4 linked regions of the Homo sapiens genome follow. The protein of the gene in region 1 purifies or fractionates together with the protein of each later gene. This does not show direct contact. Each region holds a gene or a part of one and is shown in the gene's direction. Other genes may lie near its edges.

Region 1 (5,443 bases):
TTGCTTTAATCAGGATCCCAAGTGGGACGGCATTTTAAGCAAGTGAAAAAATTTCTCTGTCTCCAGTTTGTCACACTTTGTATTTCACTCTATGGACTGTGAGCGTGGGGCATGTTTTCCTCTATGAAGGCTGAGACTCAAGGCAGAAGAGGTTTCATTTAAGACCTGAGGCTGAGACAGAGTGAGCCTGGTTAGAATGCCCCATGCGTGCCTAACTCCGGCAGGCAGACTTCAGGCACTGTTGGCTCCAGGCTCCACACAGCCACCCCTATCATTTTCTATGGGTGGGTCTTTAATTTGGGGCTTAATAGAAAGCGAGTCCATTGAGGATGAGTTAATCCACATCATGGAGTGGTCGCTATGTTCCTTTCATGACCTCTTTAGGCTCACGTGACTGCCGTGAGCATAGGAAGGACGACGGGGACAGCAGCCACGGTGGCCCAGCAGTGTGAGGCCTTTCGGGTGCAGCTGCAGCTGCCAGAAACCCACTGTCTGGGCCCTGTGTCCGCTCACGCCGTTTTCTCTCTCCCGACTCTCTGCTGCTGGAGCCTGTGTGCAATACAACCTCATCCCAGTGGCCAGGCTTCGGGGCCTCCCCTGGGAGGGCCGGGGAGGAGTGGTTCACAGGGAGATGGCAGGAAACTCTGGAGGGAGGCAGAAAGCATGGCGTGCACGGGGCGCCTGTGGGGCGTCCACCTGTGTGTCCTTCCCCATGGGAGGCAGAAAGCATGGCGTGCACGGGGCGCCTGTGGGGCGTCCACCTGTGTGTCCTTCCCCATGGGAGGCAGAAAGCATGGCGTGCACGGGGCGCCTGTGGGGCGTCCACCTGTGTGTCCTTCCCCATGGGAGGCAGAAAGCATGGCGTGCACGGGGCGCCTGTGGGGCGTCCACCTGTGTGTCCTTCCCCATGGGAACCCCTGTCAATCACACCAGCACCCTCCACCTGGGGCTGACTGGGGGCCACATTTCTATCTGCGGTGGTGATGTGAGCTCCCAGTCCCAAAGAGCTCTCTTCCAGTGAGCCACAGCCGCCCTGCTCCTTCACCCCTGCCCCTCTCCTCACCCCTGCCACTGCCCCTTCACCCCTGCCCCTCTCCTCACCCCTGCCCCTCTCCTCACCCCTGCCCCTGTCCTCACCCCTACCCCTGTCCTCACCCCTGCCCCTCTCCTCACCCCTGCCCCTGCCCCTTCACCCCTGCCCCTCTCCTCGCCCCTGCCCCTTCACCCCTGCCCCTCTCCTCGCCCCTGCCCCTTCACCCCTGCCCCTCTCCTCGCCCCTGCCCCTTCACCCCTGCCCCTCTCCTCGCCCCTGCCCTGCCCCTTCACCCCTGCCCCCTCCTCGCCCCTGCCCCTTCGCCCCTGCCCCTCTCCTCTCCCCTGCACTGCCCCTTCACCCCTGCCCCTCTCCTCACCCTGCCCCTGCCCCTTCACCCCTGCCCCTCTCCTCGCCCCTGCCCCTCCTCTCACCCCTGTCCCTCCCTGCTGTCACCCAGCACACCTTTCACCACCTTCTGATGTCATTGGGAAGCAGCTCTTAGGAAGTTAGGCAAAGATTCCTGCCCAGAAAGAGGCCAGTTCAGTTTGAGACAGACTTCTGTGGTTTTGTTGCATTTGTTGCTAAGAACAGGATTAGGAATTTGAGAGCTTTAATTTTCTGTCTCCACAGAACCGTGCCCGGAAAAAAAGGCTGAATATTATTATTGTGGCTGAAGGAGCAATTGATACCCAAAATAAACCCATCACCTCTGAGAAAATCAAAGAGGTGAGTGTGTGTAGCTGCTCACTTTCTCTCGGTTTCTGCCTGGAAGCAGGGGAGGCTAGCGTCATGGGCAGGCTTGGTTTAGAACATTGAATTATTAACTTTTTATCCTTGATATTTAAAACATTTTCATAATGACTCAGAAGTTGGACGGCAGGGGAAACACGCAGCTCCCGCTCCTGGGAGCCCATTCCGCTTACGTCACCTCTTGCCGAGCCCGTAGAGGTTCCGGGACTCCCCAGCAGACAGAGGGGGTCAGCTCGAGTGGCCACGCGTGTTCTTTGGATTAGAATGTTCCGGCTCTTAAACATGAGCTGCTCTGAGAATGAGGACTGACCACTTGGCAGCCGACCCGGGCTTCTGTTTGCCACAGTGGGAAAAGGCGGCGTCTTGCTATTCCCTGTGCCCTCCCATAACCCAGAGCATCAGCTGAGCACATTCTTACAAAGCCACTGTGTCCTCGTGGCCCTGCCTGGGAACAGGCTTTGGCAGGCTTTGGCAGGCTTCGTGCCCTGGGACTTGCTCAGGCCAGTGCCTGCCTGTCTGGAGAGGACTCTGATACCATGGGCTGTGCCCCTGCTGTAGACGGGGCTGCAGGCTGCCGGGGCTGGGGATGGGCTGTGGCTCCAGCAGCCACGGGGCAGAAGACGTCCCCACCTGGCTTTGCAAGTCGGCTTCTTTATTGTGCTTTGTTATGGTCAGTTAAGGAGCAAAGCATATCTCTGGATATGAAAACAGTGATGGACACCTGGGAAAGACATCTGCCAATATTTATAAGTGGTCATCCATAAAGTCCAGGCAAAGATTTTATTTCCCGCTTAACTGTAATTAAATTATAGGACAATGGACCGAGAAGGAACCAAGGAATTTACGTAGCCCAGCCCCACTGTCCTTACAGAGGAATAAGCTGAGTTCCAGAGACAGTCAGTGGCCTCTCCAGATCACCGGGCCGGTGTGCCCATGGGCTGGGGCGAGGGGAACGCCTTGATTGGGCTGGCTTGTGCTGTTCAAATCACAGCTGAACAAATTAAAGCTGGTTCAAGGAAGATGTTTACATTTTTTGTAAAATATAAGTAATAGTTTAAATGCAAGCTACTGAAACGTTACTTTTTTATTTTTCTTTTTTAAAGCAACGAACATATTACTTGTATTCATTTTCTAGGTGCGAGCCAAGATCTTGTCTGGTAACAACAGTATTATTTTTAAAACCAATTTTCAGCTGCCTGTTATATACACTAAACGTTCTGCTAGGAAACAAAATTTAGAAATAACTTTTCCCATTTAGATCTGAAGAAAGAGCGAAAAACCTTTTCCAGTGCCCAGTACCTCCTTCCAGATCTGGGCTGCTGTGTCCGCATCACAGTTCCGCATCCTAACGAGATGTTTCCTTGCAGCTTGTCGTCACGCAGCTGGGCTATGACACACGTGTGACCATCCTCGGGCACGTGCAGAGAGGAGGGACCCCTTCGGCATTCGACAGGATCTTGGTGAGTTGGGAAGGGTTGGGCATCTTCACAAGGTCTCTAGGAGGAAGCGTTTCTGGAGAGGCACAGGCACCAGCCGGCCACAGAGGCTGGCAAGGTGCTCCCCGAGAGATGCCCGCGGCCCGGCCCTCATCTTAACGATCCTTGAGACCTTTGGTGTAGACCAGTCTCTAGGCCTGCAGCCATTCAGATGCGGGGAGAGCTCCCTAATGTGGGAAGGCAGTGCTTGGTGTTGGCACGACGTGGACCCCAGAGGGCACAATCCCAGGGCAGAAAGGCTGTGTTTCTAGTGAGTTTCTGGAAACTGACTCAGGGCAGCAGGAATCCCAAGTACAAACCCTCAGTTCTTAACACTCCTGCTCTCCATGTGCCCTGACCTCCTCTCTGTTCCCGTCTTGCCAGTTCTAAAGGAGTGGAAATCGCTTTGCTCTAAAGAGTTGGGCTGGAAGCGGGAGGGGCTGTGAGCACCTGACTGAGGTCATTGGACGTCATGGAAAGATAGGAGGTGACAGGGACAGGGCAGGACGGGAGGCTGCCCCTGACCCACATGGACCTGGTTTCCAGGCCAGCCGCATGGGAGTGGAGGCAGTCATCGCCTTGCTAGAGGCCACCCCGGACACCCCAGCTTGCGTCGTGTCACTGAACGGGAACCACGCCGTGCGCCTGCCGCTGATGGAGTGCGTGCAGATGGTGAGTGGGCAGCCCATGGCCAAGGGCAGGGCGGAGACGGCTGGGACAGAAGCTGCTTGTCAGGCCAGCCTGGGCACCTTGGGTGTCTCGTCGGTGCACGATGCATTACACGGCCTTTCTGAGAAGGAGGTGAGCTGCCCGTGGGGAGGGAGAAGGCTTATGTTCTCTCCCACACCTGCAGAGCCTGCGCCGTCTTCGCTCTTTGGTTTTCTAAGTTACCATCCATCTGTGTGGCACATAGTCGTAACCTCCCCTGAGTGGGGGTCTAGAGCATCGGGATCCTCAACAGTCGAGGATCCAGGTGGCCCCAGTGCACCAGGTGCTGCAGAAGGACAGAGTGCAGGGAGGCAGCCGAGAGAGAGAGATCCGTGGACAGACTGCAGGGAGGCGGGCGTGAGAGAGACCCATGGGGCAGAGGGGGCAGGGAGGCAGGGAGGCGGGCGTGAGAGAGATCTACAGGGTGGTATTTTGTAGGGGAAGGTGGGACCTTCCCAAACTTCTCCAGTTTCAGCCATTTCCTGTCCTCCTATCCCCAAGGACATTCAGGTCTGTGATGGGACACAGGGAAAGCTCTGGTCACCCGAAGATACACCCACCCTTCTTGGGCCAGGGAACTGTCTGCCTGCAAATGAACAAAGGGAAAAGCAGTTCCAGCTTTTCAGGCATTGGTTCAGTAGTGGAGGTGGCTGTGGAGTTAGCTGCATTTGAAGTTATTTAATTAATTAATTTATTTATTTAGAGACGGAGTCTCACTGTTGCCCAGGCTAGAGTGCAGTGGCGTGATCTTGGCTCACTGCAAGCTCCGCCTCCTGGGTTCACGCCATTCTCCTGCCTCAGCCTTCCGAGTAGCTGGGACTACAGGTGCCCACCACCACGCCTGGCTAATTTTTTTTTTTTTTTTTTTTTTTTGTATTTTTAGTAGAGGTGGGGTTTCACCGTGTTAGCCAGGATGGTCTGGATCTCCTGACCTTGTGATCCATCCACCTCGGCCTCCCAAAGTGCTGGGATTACAGGCATGAGCCACCACGCCCAGCTGTTGTTTTATTTTTCAGAGTTCATTCATGATTCGTGACTCCTGTTTTGTTGCCTCTTAACACACACAAAGAAGTCGTGAAGCAATCAAGTCAGGGACTTGTTGAAAGTCACCTTGTAAACATAATTTCCAAAAGCCCAAGGGAGAAAATAGTATTTGTGTGTATGTGTGTGAGTGTGTGCGCAGGCTTGTGTCTCTGTGTGTATGTATGTATATGTGTGTGCATGTGTATCTCTGTATATGCATATACATGCAGGTTTATGCATATATTTATGCATGTGTGTGCATGTTTGTGAGGTAGTTTGGGTCTGCATGTATGTGTATGTTTATATGCATGAGTATGCATGTTTGTGGTAGTATGTCTGCATGTATGTGTGTGCATGTTTGTGTGCATGCATGTTTGTACGTGTGTGCATGTTTTTGTGAGGTAGTGTGTGTGCATGTTAGTGTGTGTGCATGTGTGTATATGCATGTGTA
Region 2 (2,952 bases), about 120 Mb from region 1:
GTCATCCAGGCTAGAGTGCAGTGTTGTGATCATGGCTCACTGCAGCCTCAACCCCCCCAGGTTCAAGCGATCCTCCCACTTCAGCCTCCTGAGTAGTTGGGACCACAGGCATGTGCCACTGTGCCCAGCTAATTCTTTGTTTTTTGGGTTTTTTTGTTTTGTTTGGGTGTGTGTGTGTGTTTGTGTGTGTGCAGATAGGGGATCTCTTTATGTTGCCCAGGCTAGTCTCGAACTCCTGGGTTCAAGTGATCCTCTCTCCTTAGCCTCCCGAAATTCTGGAATTAGAGGTGTGAGCTACCTCGCCCAGCCCTCTTTTAAGTTTTTGTTTATCTGGGAATGTCTTAATTTCTCCTTAAGGCTAGTTTTGCTGGATGTAGAATTCTTGGTTTATAGTCTTTGTCTCATCATTTCGAATATGTCCTCCCACCACTTTCTGGCCTCTGGTTTCTACTGAGAAGCCAACTAGTTTCTGATAAGGATCCTTTGTACACACTGAGTCATTTTTCTGTCACTGCTTTCAAGATTTTGTGGCTTTTGACAGTTTCGATTATGATGTGTCTATGTGTGGATCTCTGAGTTTATCCTACATGGAGTTTGTTGAGCTTCTTGGAGGTGCAGAATAATTCATATTTTGGGGAAGTTTTCAACAAGTTTGGGAAGGTTTTGGCCATGTTTCTTTCTGCCTCATTTCTCTCTGCTCTCCTTCTGACACTACCACTGTGTATCTGATGTTGCATTTAATGGTATCCCACAGGTCTTCAAGGCTCTGTTCATTTTCCCTCATTCTTCTTTTTTTGTTCTGTTTCTTAGACTAATCTCAGTGAACTTATCTTCAAATTTAGTGATTTTCTTCTGCCTGATCAAATCTGAGCACCTCTAGAGAATTTTTACTATATTTTTCAACTCCAGAATTTTTATTTCCTTCTTCTAAAAAATTATTTCTCTCTTTTTATTGATACTCTCTATTTGGTGATTCTCATATTTTCCTGAAGTTCTTTTTATGTGGTTTCCTTTATTTCTTTGAATGTTTAAAATAGCCAATTTAGAGTCTTTTTGTCTAATGTTTGAGTTTCCTCTGGGACAGTTTTCTACTGACTCCCTTATCCCCAAAGTGTGAGCCATACCTTCTGGTTTCTTTGTACTTTTTTGTTGAAAACCAGACATTTTATTTGGTCAGTGGGGTCTCACTGTATCACCCAGGCTGGAATAGTAAGTAGCACAGCCACAGCTCACTGCAGCCTTAAACTGCTGGGCTCAAGTGATCCTCTTGCCTCAGTAGCTGGGACCATAGGTGTGCACCACCATGCCCAACTAAAGTTTTGTTTTTTTGTTTTTTCTTTTCTTTTTTTTTCTTTCTTTTTTTTTTTGTAGTGATGAGGTCTTGCTTTATTGCCTAGGCTGGTCAACTCCTGGCTTCAAGTAGTCCTCCCACCTTGGCCTCCCAATGTGTTGGGATTACAGGTGTAAGCCACCACATCTAGCCACAACCAGACATTTTAAATTATATAATATGGCAACTCTGCTTTGGAAGTTACTCTGGAAATTAAACCTCCCTAGGGTTTATTGTTGTTGCTGTTTGTTACTGTTGGTAGGTTGTTTAGTAACTTTTTTGACTAATTCTATAAAGTCTGTATCTTTGTCACATGTGGGCACTGAAGTCTCTGCTCTGTTAGTTTTGTGGTTAATGATTGGAAAGAAATTTCCTTAAATGCTGGGTAGTAGTCTCCCAGTCTACGGGTGAATAATAATCATAAATAAAAATAAAAGTTGGGGCAAGCCCTCAGTTCAACACTTAGCCATGCAATTTACAAGCCTTAGCCTTCATTTCCTGCTCGCACAGAGCCTCCAGGTCATGCAGAGGTGGGAGCTATGGTCTCTGAGCATGTCTGCAGCCTTCTGAGTTCCTAGGAGTTACATACTTAAGGTTTTCAGAGCCCTCTACAGACATGTCATTTCCCAGCTAGCTTTTCCATTGAAGGGTTTGGGTTAGTCTGTCTGCCGCAGCTGTTACCCAGTGTCTCAGGTAGCTAAGGTGATTGGTAATTTCTTCCGATTGTTTTTGATAAATGCCCTGGGGAAAGAGGTGGTTCATAGTAGACAGGCTTCCAGTCAGGTTAAATAAAGACAACCTTGCAAATGGGTCCTTCCAGGGAGCCACCAGACAGGTGGTCAGATGACAGTTCTCCGGGAATGGCACTTGGAAGGAGCCCTAGCCCTGTTCTCTCTCCGGTGGCTGCCAGGCTGTTGATTTTTGAAGCTACTAATTATCGCCTGGAGGGGAAGGGGTTGGAATTTAGGAGTAGGACATGTTAAAATGCTGCCAGGCTCAACATTCTTACCAATAATCACCTGGTTTTCTTGCATAAATGCTCTCTGGATTGCTGCAAGTATGGTTTTATTTCTAGTTTTTAAAAAGCTGATTTTGATCAGTGTTAACAGTAGAGACAGTTTTCTGCGGTCCCTTCTCTGCCATTTTCACTAACATCACTCTTCCTTTGTGGAAAAGCATTGTTTCCTATGCCAGTTGCTGATTTATATGTTTGCTTGACCTTAAATGAATCTGAGTTTCATTATTTTATTTTCATCAGCAGCATTATGTATGTATATGCTTTGGTACTTTCACCCATATTGCCTCCTTTGTCTAAGAGGCTGACATGCACCTTACTACATCAGTCAAGGAACCATGTTAATTTTCTTTTCCTTACAAAAATGCACATCATTTACATTTACTCTTTTGATAAAGGCAGTTGAAGATGACTTTGTGGAAATGCGGAAGAACGACCCTCAGAGCATCACTGCTGATGATCTTCACCAGCTGCTCGTGGTGGCTCGGTAAGTGGCGCACGTCCATTATTGCTGTTTCGGTAAGCTTGTGTATATGTCTTCTGAGTTATTCAGCAGTAACTGAGGCAGAATTCTAAAAACGGAAATGAACTTTTCCTTTTAAAAACG
Region 3 (3,500 bases), on another chromosome or scaffold:
CATCCTATCCACGAAGCACTGCATGTTTAGCAGTGTCTCGTCAACCCTGACAGTATTTGGTTTAGGAGCAAAACTGAACTCACCAGTGCTGCGTTTAGTCATGTAGTCAAAGATATGTGTCTCTTACCTGTGGGAAAACGAAAATGACTAACATTAACACGTAGAAATAGATGCAGCGGGTATTTCAAGCTAACTACAGTGTGAAGACGATTGAAACTTGTACAGAGGGCAAACCTCTATCTATATTTCCTTGGCATTTTGAAATGACTCTAGGGGCTGTAAGAGGAAATGTTCTGCCAGTTTGCTGCTTTATAATCTTCTAGAAACTTGAAACCATCCCAATGAGTTGTGTTGACCAGCTCCTTTTACTCCATATAAAAAATATCTTACGTATCTGTGGTGGAAAGAGAAACTCTTGCGTTTGGAGGCTGCTTTTTCAATTTCAGTAATGTACACATTTTCTCATTTTGCCCTCAGCAAATTTGTGATAGGTAGTGTTAAGCCTTCTTTGCATTTTGGACTTCAGATTAATATGGAGCCCACAGGAGCTGCAGAACTAACTTTTTTTTTTGAGACGGAGTTTCGCTCTTGTTGCCCAGGCTGGAGTGGAATGCTCACTGCAGCCTCCGCCTCCCGGGTTCAAGTGAGTCTCCTGCCTCAGCCTCTGAGCAGCTGGGATTACAGGTGCCCGCTACCAAGCCCAGCTGATTTTTTAATATTTTTAGTAGAGACGGGGTTTCACCATGCTGGCCAGGCTGGTCTCGGACTCCTGACCTCAGGTGATCCACCCGCCTTGGCCTCCCAAAGTGCTGGCATTACAGGTGTGAGCCACCACACCTGGCCCTAATTTTTAATAAAAGAGCTGATGCTACAGCTAATCTCTTTTTTTTCTGAGACAGAGTCTCGCTCTGTTGCCCAGGCTGGAGTGCAGTGACGCAATCTCCGCTCACTGCAAGCTCCGCCCCCCGGGTTCATGCCATTCTCCTGCCTCAGCCTCCCAAGTAGCTGGGACTACAGGTGCCCGCCACCATGCCCAGCTAATTTTTTTGTATTTTTAGCAGAGACGGGGTTTCACTGTGTTAGCCAGGATGGTCTTGATCTCCTGATCTGGTGATCCGCCCGCCTCGGCCTCCCAAAGTGCCTGCTAATCTCTTAATTCTGGCTTCTTGCCTCCACCTTGGAGCTTCTTCTCAGTTGTGGCGATCTGATCAGAGAGAAGTGGTGATGTCGCTAAAACTACCAGATGCAGCGCGGGAGCCTTATTGCTTCGAGGTCTAGGCCCGCCCCCAGCCCCTCCTGGAAGTGCACTGAAGCCAAGTGTAGGATGTTCTTTGTGTGAGTGAGCAATGATGCATCATTGGGTTTTGTTCTCTTGAATAGCTATTCTTTGCTGGTAAGATTTGTAGTTGTTCTTGTGTCCTTTTAAGGGAAGTGTAATTATATTCTTTGCCTTTAGCATACATTTAAGTAGCTGTGTCTTTGGAATTGGATGTTGAATTGTTCCTCCAGCTCACACATGGAGCTCACAAAATGCTGACAGTTGCTGTAGAAACGATATCTGGCAGCTGTGACAGAGTTGGATCTTTGTGCACCCAAAAAATTTCCTTTGTAGGCTTTAGCAAATTAACATTTTAAAATGGGTGCTCATTATATACTGGGTAGTTGGTTTTAAGAATAAAAAACAGTTGGTATTTTATTTGCCACCTGAGAGACTACAAAAGGATTCTCCAGGTTCTGTAAAACCACTTATGCATCTTGTGAATTTTTGCAGGTAAAATAATTTTCTCCCTAAGAAATAGCAAACATCTGTCATTCCATAGCTTTTAAGTTAAGTAGGCACTGGAGCCTGATGGGACTAACACACCCTACAATTCTGCTGAGTTTTTGTCGTAACTGATCACCAGGACTGTGATTCTGAGACTTAGTTTTGATTTCTCCCCCACTTGACCAGATGATAAAAAACCAAATGGGAGAAAAGTTGTGGGTGATGTGGCATACGACGAGGCCAAAGAGAGGGCGAGCTTCATCACTCCTGTTCCTGGCGGCGTAGGGCCCATGACAGTTGCAATGCTCATGCAGGTAATTGTGAATAAAAGTTTCTATAAGAGTTCTGAAAAGCTGATCGAGTTTTGGCTGCTTTTCTCCCCAAGTAGAAATGTCAAAAACCTACTCAGAAGTAAAGATGTGAATTTATTGAGAAAAAGGGAAGGGAAGAATAGAGAAATAAGATCAGGCACATTAATAGAGGAAAGTAGGGATGGCATAATTCCAGTCTGTTTTGGAATATAATAACTTTGAAAGAAGAAAAGTGCGATCACACTGGCTTGGCCAGGTCTGTTTTGGTTTGCCTTCCCTTTCTTTTTTTTTTTTTTTTTTTGAGACGGAGTTTTGCTCTTGCTGCCCAGGCTGGAGTGCAATGGTGTGATCTTGGCTTACCGCAACCTCCATCTCCCTGATTCAAGTGATTCTCCTGCCTCAGCCTCCTGAGTAGCTGGGATTACAGGTGTGCACCACCACGCCCGGCGAATTTTGTATTTTTAGTAGAGACAGGTTTCTCCACGTTGGTTAGGCTGGTCTGGAACTCCCGACCTCAGGTGATCCGCCCACCTTGGCCTTCCAAAGTGCTGGGATTAGAGGTGTGAGCCACCGTGCCCGGCCTGTTTTCCCTTTCTAACATGCACCAGCTGACAGGGGCCAGGCGAGCAGCCCCAAAGCATGTTAGGTGCCTCTTGACTCTTAGCTAGGATTGAAGCATGGTAATAAGTGGGTCTGAAGCAGTTCATTTTGTGATTGAACTGGAGTGACCTGGAGCTTGAAACTGAGGTGAGGATTAAAATAACCACCTCTTCTAAGTTTCATTTATTTCATTTTGCTTAGAGCACAGTAGAGAGTGCCAAGCGTTTCCTGGAGAAATTTAAGCCAGGAAAGTGGATGATTCAGTATAACAACCTTAACCTCAAGACACCTGTTCCAAGGTAAAAATAAAGTTTTACTGATTTAAAACTTTGTGAATTGTTGGTTTTTAGTTGACAGATACTGTGGGTTCACATATGCTCCCTCTGAAGGTGCCTTCAGTGGTTGGGGTTGGGTTGGGGGCTTGTTACTACTGTGGGATTAATTAAACTCAGTGGATAAACATTAATACCTATTTTCTATGTTTCCAAAGTGACATTGATATATCACGATCTTGTAAACCGAAGCCCATTGGTAAGCTGGCTCGAGAAATTGGTCTGCTGTCTGAAGAGGTAGAATTATATGGTGAAACAAAGGCCAAAGTTCTGCTGTCAGCACTAGAACGCCTGAAGCACCGGCCTGATGGGAAATACGTGGTGGTGACTGGGTATGCTTTTTATTCATGTTGCCATCCAAATCTTAGTATCAGTCCTGATACTAAGGCGTTGCATTTGCACTTGGCACATGTATGTAGAGGTGCCTTTAATTTGATTTTAGCATTTTCACCCGTATTTGATCTCATTTGATCCTTACAGCAATCCTGAGAG
Region 4 (3,500 bases), on another chromosome or scaffold:
CTCAGAGTCTCTTCCTGCTGGAGGTTTCCGTGGCTCTGGGTGTCACATAAGTCCTACTTCTGCCAGGCCTGCTGCCTCATCGGTCGGGCTCCCGGGTCCTGGGTATAGGCACATTCAGAGGCAAGGAATAACGGTGGGGTGTGCCGGGCCCCACTTCCCCAGATGGCCGGAACCTGCATTCTCTGATCACAGAGGAAGAGGGAGGCAGGTGTCAGAGGGCGCCCCTGGGAGGAGGGGCTTATGCAGTGTCCAGGGGCAGTCAGGCAGTGCGGCCCGCGTTGTCTGCAGATGGGTGCTGCCCTTCAGGCTGTGCCGAGCTTCTCTCACGCTGCCCCCACCCCAGGGCTGCCTGTGGATTTCGACCAGTACAATGAGCTGCACCTGCCAGCAGTCATCCTCAAGACCTTCCTCCGGGAGCTTCCTGAGCCCCTGCTCACCTTTGACCTCTACCCCCATGTGGTGGGCTTCCTCAGTGAGTCCCCATCTCTTCTGTTGGGCCTGGGGCTGGACTTGGGGCAGGTGCGCTGCAGGCTTTCGGGCCTAGGCGCCTCCCAGGGAAGACTGCTGGGGGTCTCCCCTCTAGCCTGCATCAGAGCGTCCTGAACCAGCCCAGCCTAGGGCCCCTATAACCCGGGCCTCCTTTCCTCATAGACATTGATGAAAGCCAGAGGGTGCCAGCGACACTGCAGGTCCTCCAGACGCTGCCCGAGGAGAACTACCAGGTGCTTCGTTTCCTGACTGCTTTCCTGGTGCAGGTGAGACCTTGGACTTGGCCTCTGGGGTGAAGGGAGGGGGAAGGAGGAGCTGCCGCCTCCTCTGCGCCCTGGTCATTGTTGCTGGGAGTGGGAGGCAGCATCTGTGGCTTCCTGCTGCAGTCCCTGATTCCCTCCACAGATTTCTGCACACAGTGACCAGAACAAGATGACCAACACTAACCTGGCTGTTGTTTTCGGCCCTAACCTGCTGTGGGCCAAGGATGCGGCCATCACCCTCAAGGCCATTAATCCCATCAACACCTTCACCAAGTTCCTTCTGGATCACCAAGGGGAGCTGTTCCCAAGCCCGGACCCCAGCGGGCTCTGAACCTGGCCCCTGCCCCACCAGCCCCTTCTCTGGTAGCCCGGGTTTGGACTCTTCCTCCTGGCATCAGGGGCCATGAAGCCCCCTGGAGAGAGATGTTGGAGCCACCCATCAGGCATGCTCTCCCCCACCTCTGTCCAGCCCGCCTCACGGCCCTGGCGGCCTCGCTGTTACCAGAAGACGTTTTTCTCTGCCTTACACTTCTCACTGCCTCTCTGGACACCGGGCTTTTGCTGGGCTCTCCAGAGCTGGGCTTGGCTCTTCCAGCTGGAGAAGGACTGAGCCCCAGTAACCCCTTTCCTGCTTTTTCCTGCCTCTGTTTCCCTAGCAAGTGTGGATGAATCAAATGACTGCCGGCTGGGCTGGTAGCAGGGGCCAGTCCTCCCCTCTTGATTGCTGGGAATGAGCAGCTGAGCTCTTTGGTGTGGACACCGCCCCAAGCTGAGGTGCCTCCCTATCTGGTAGGCTGCCCTGCTTTGCAGAAGCCCCACTGCATGAAGGCCTGAGTGCAAGCACCCTTGCTCCTGTACTGCCCCCAGCAGCGCAGTCTGGGGTATTTCCCCTGCTGAGGAGTGACAGGGCTGGAGACTGTGTCTGCTTTCTGCCTCCTCTTCCACACATCCTGGGTCAGCCTTTCCCAAGTGATACTGCCCCTGGGGTGTCCTAACCCCTTGGTTGTGCAGGGACTGGTAGCTTGGATGACATGGCTCAGAGTCCCAGCATCCACTTGAAACCTCCCTCTCCACCTCCCCGCCCCCGAGAGCTACAGCGTGTGATGGAATCAGTGACCGGCCAGGTTAGCCTCTCCCCTCTTGGCCTCCTTTCCCACACGGGCAGATCATCAGCCTTCATGTTCTTGTGGACCTGTCTGTTACGGAGTCACACTGGCCCCTGCCCCAGCCAGAGGTGACTCAGTGCCTCAGGATCTTATGGCTCCTTCCTCCAGCTGGGGGACTCTTAAAGGGGCTGGGGTAGAGACTAAGAGTGCCCGTAGGAGGGGCAGAGATTGTGCTGATAGGTCAGTCCAGATAGGTGGGTTCTAGCAATTTCCCCAGGGGATTAAGGGGCTCTAGGGCCACCTTTTTTTTTTTTTTTCTGAGATGGAGTCTCGCTCTGTCACCAGGCTGGAGTGCAGTGGCGCGATCTCGGCACACCTCCGCCTTCTGGGTTCAAGCAATTCTCCTGCCTCAGCCTCCTGAGTAGCTGGGACTATAGGTGCATGCCACCATGCCCAGCTAATTTTTGTATTTTTAGTAGAGACGGGGTTTCACCATGTTGGCCAGGATGGTCTCGATCTCCTGACCTCATGATCCACCCACCTCGGCCTCCCAAAGTGCTGGGATTCCAGGCGTGAGCCACTGCACCCGGCCAGCCCTGTTGTCTTTCAAAGAACCTCGGCCCCAGTGATGGCTGATCTCACTCCCACTGTCTCGTAGAATTACACTCCTTCCTGGGGATCCCTCTTCCTGCAGCCTTGTCCTTGGGGAGTACAGGGAAGTACCTGCAGTGACCCTGCCCCCATGACCTTGGCCAGGCAGGATGATTCCAGAGCCCGTACTGTGGGGATCCTCACTGACCAGCCCAGCCCCATCCGCAAGCCAGGCTGGGCCTGGGCATAACTTCGCTGGGCTCTCCCAAGACCATCAGCAGTGCATCCAGCCCCCTGGGGCCTGGGCTGCTGCTGGTTCTTCATCAGTCCCTTGGTCTCTAGCCTCGGCCAGGGCTGCTCTGCTCTCCGCCCTCCTTTGTGTATCAAGTGTCGCTCACAGCCCCATTCACTGGGGAGCCTTTCGGATCTATTTGGTCTTTCTCATGTCCCCCACTGGTCTGTACCCCAGGGAGCGGGTGCTTGTACTGTGTGAATCCAGTGTTCACATTCACACTTAATGACTTCCTTGGCACCAATCATGTATTTCACCGTTTGCACTTTTTGTATTTCAATAAAAATGTTGATGCAAAACTGCTCATCTGGATGTTGGGGAAATGAGTTGGGTGTGGAAGTTGGAAACTGGATGGGAAGTGTGGTGCGGTGGAGGAAGAGGAACAGATGGGGCCTCAGGAAGTCCCCTCCCCAGTCCGTCTGCCGCTTCCTCATCTTGTGCACTCGAGTGGTGATGAGGGCAGCTTCCTGACCAGCTTCTAGGCATGGAGGTGTCCACGGCCACCTTCCCGTTGTTTGTACCCCCAGCATTCCAGCAGGCCACCATGTGCTGCATCCTATGACCAGGGCCTCTCCTGTTTCCCAACTGGAAGGTACCGGAAGTTTGAAGGGATCTTAGATTTATCTAAGGCAAGCAGGGGGAAGAAAAGTGGTGTGGACTGTGATGGACAATGGTGTGGGATCTGGAGTCACACGAGAGTTTGAGTCCTCGTTCCCTCACGTGCCAGCTCTCACCGCTAACAGTCATCATCACTGGCTC

What was found. The genes of interacting proteins can lie anywhere in the genome.
Region 2: the proteins of PFKP (region 1) and MCMBP fractionate together in Homo sapiens (co-fractionation; one large-scale study listed by BioGRID). This does not show direct contact.
Region 3: the proteins of PFKP (region 1) and MTHFD1 fractionate together in Homo sapiens (co-fractionation; one large-scale study listed by BioGRID). This does not show direct contact.
Region 4: the proteins of PFKP (region 1) and ARHGAP1 fractionate together in Homo sapiens (co-fractionation; one large-scale study listed by BioGRID). This does not show direct contact.

What each region holds. Positions count from the first base shown.
Region 1 is NC_000010.11:3,105,548-3,110,990, forward strand, and holds part of PFKP (ATP-dependent 6-phosphofructokinase, platelet type), read left to right. Parts: intron 1-1,666; coding exon 1,667-1,762; intron 1,763-3,153; coding exon 3,154-3,246; intron 3,247-3,807; coding exon 3,808-3,933; intron 3,934-5,443. UniProt on the Homo sapiens protein: Catalyzes the phosphorylation of D-fructose 6-phosphate to fructose 1,6-bisphosphate by ATP, the first committing step of glycolysis.
Region 2 is NC_000010.11:119,831,892-119,834,843, reverse strand, and holds part of MCMBP (mini-chromosome maintenance complex-binding protein), read left to right. Parts: intron 1-2,743; coding exon 2,744-2,832; intron 2,833-2,952. UniProt on the Homo sapiens protein: Associated component of the MCM complex that acts as a regulator of DNA replication.
Region 3 is NC_000014.9:64,422,853-64,426,352, forward strand, and holds part of MTHFD1 (C-1-tetrahydrofolate synthase, cytoplasmic), read left to right. Parts: intron 1-1,951; coding exon 1,952-2,079; intron 2,080-2,877; coding exon 2,878-2,975; intron 2,976-3,166; coding exon 3,167-3,340; intron 3,341-3,500. UniProt on the Homo sapiens protein: Trifunctional enzyme that catalyzes the interconversion of three forms of one-carbon-substituted tetrahydrofolate: (6R)-5,10-methylene-5,6,7,8-tetrahydrofolate, 5,10-methenyltetrahydrofolate and (6S)-10-formyltetrahydrofolate.
Region 4 is NC_000011.10:46,676,620-46,680,119, reverse strand, and holds the end of ARHGAP1 (rho GTPase-activating protein 1), read left to right. Parts: intron 1-343; coding exon 344-472; intron 473-651; coding exon 652-755; intron 756-894; coding exon 895-1,083; 3' UTR 1,084-3,040; downstream 3,041-3,500. UniProt on the Homo sapiens protein: GTPase activator for the Rho, Rac and Cdc42 proteins, converting them to the putatively inactive GDP-bound state. Cdc42 seems to be the preferred substrate.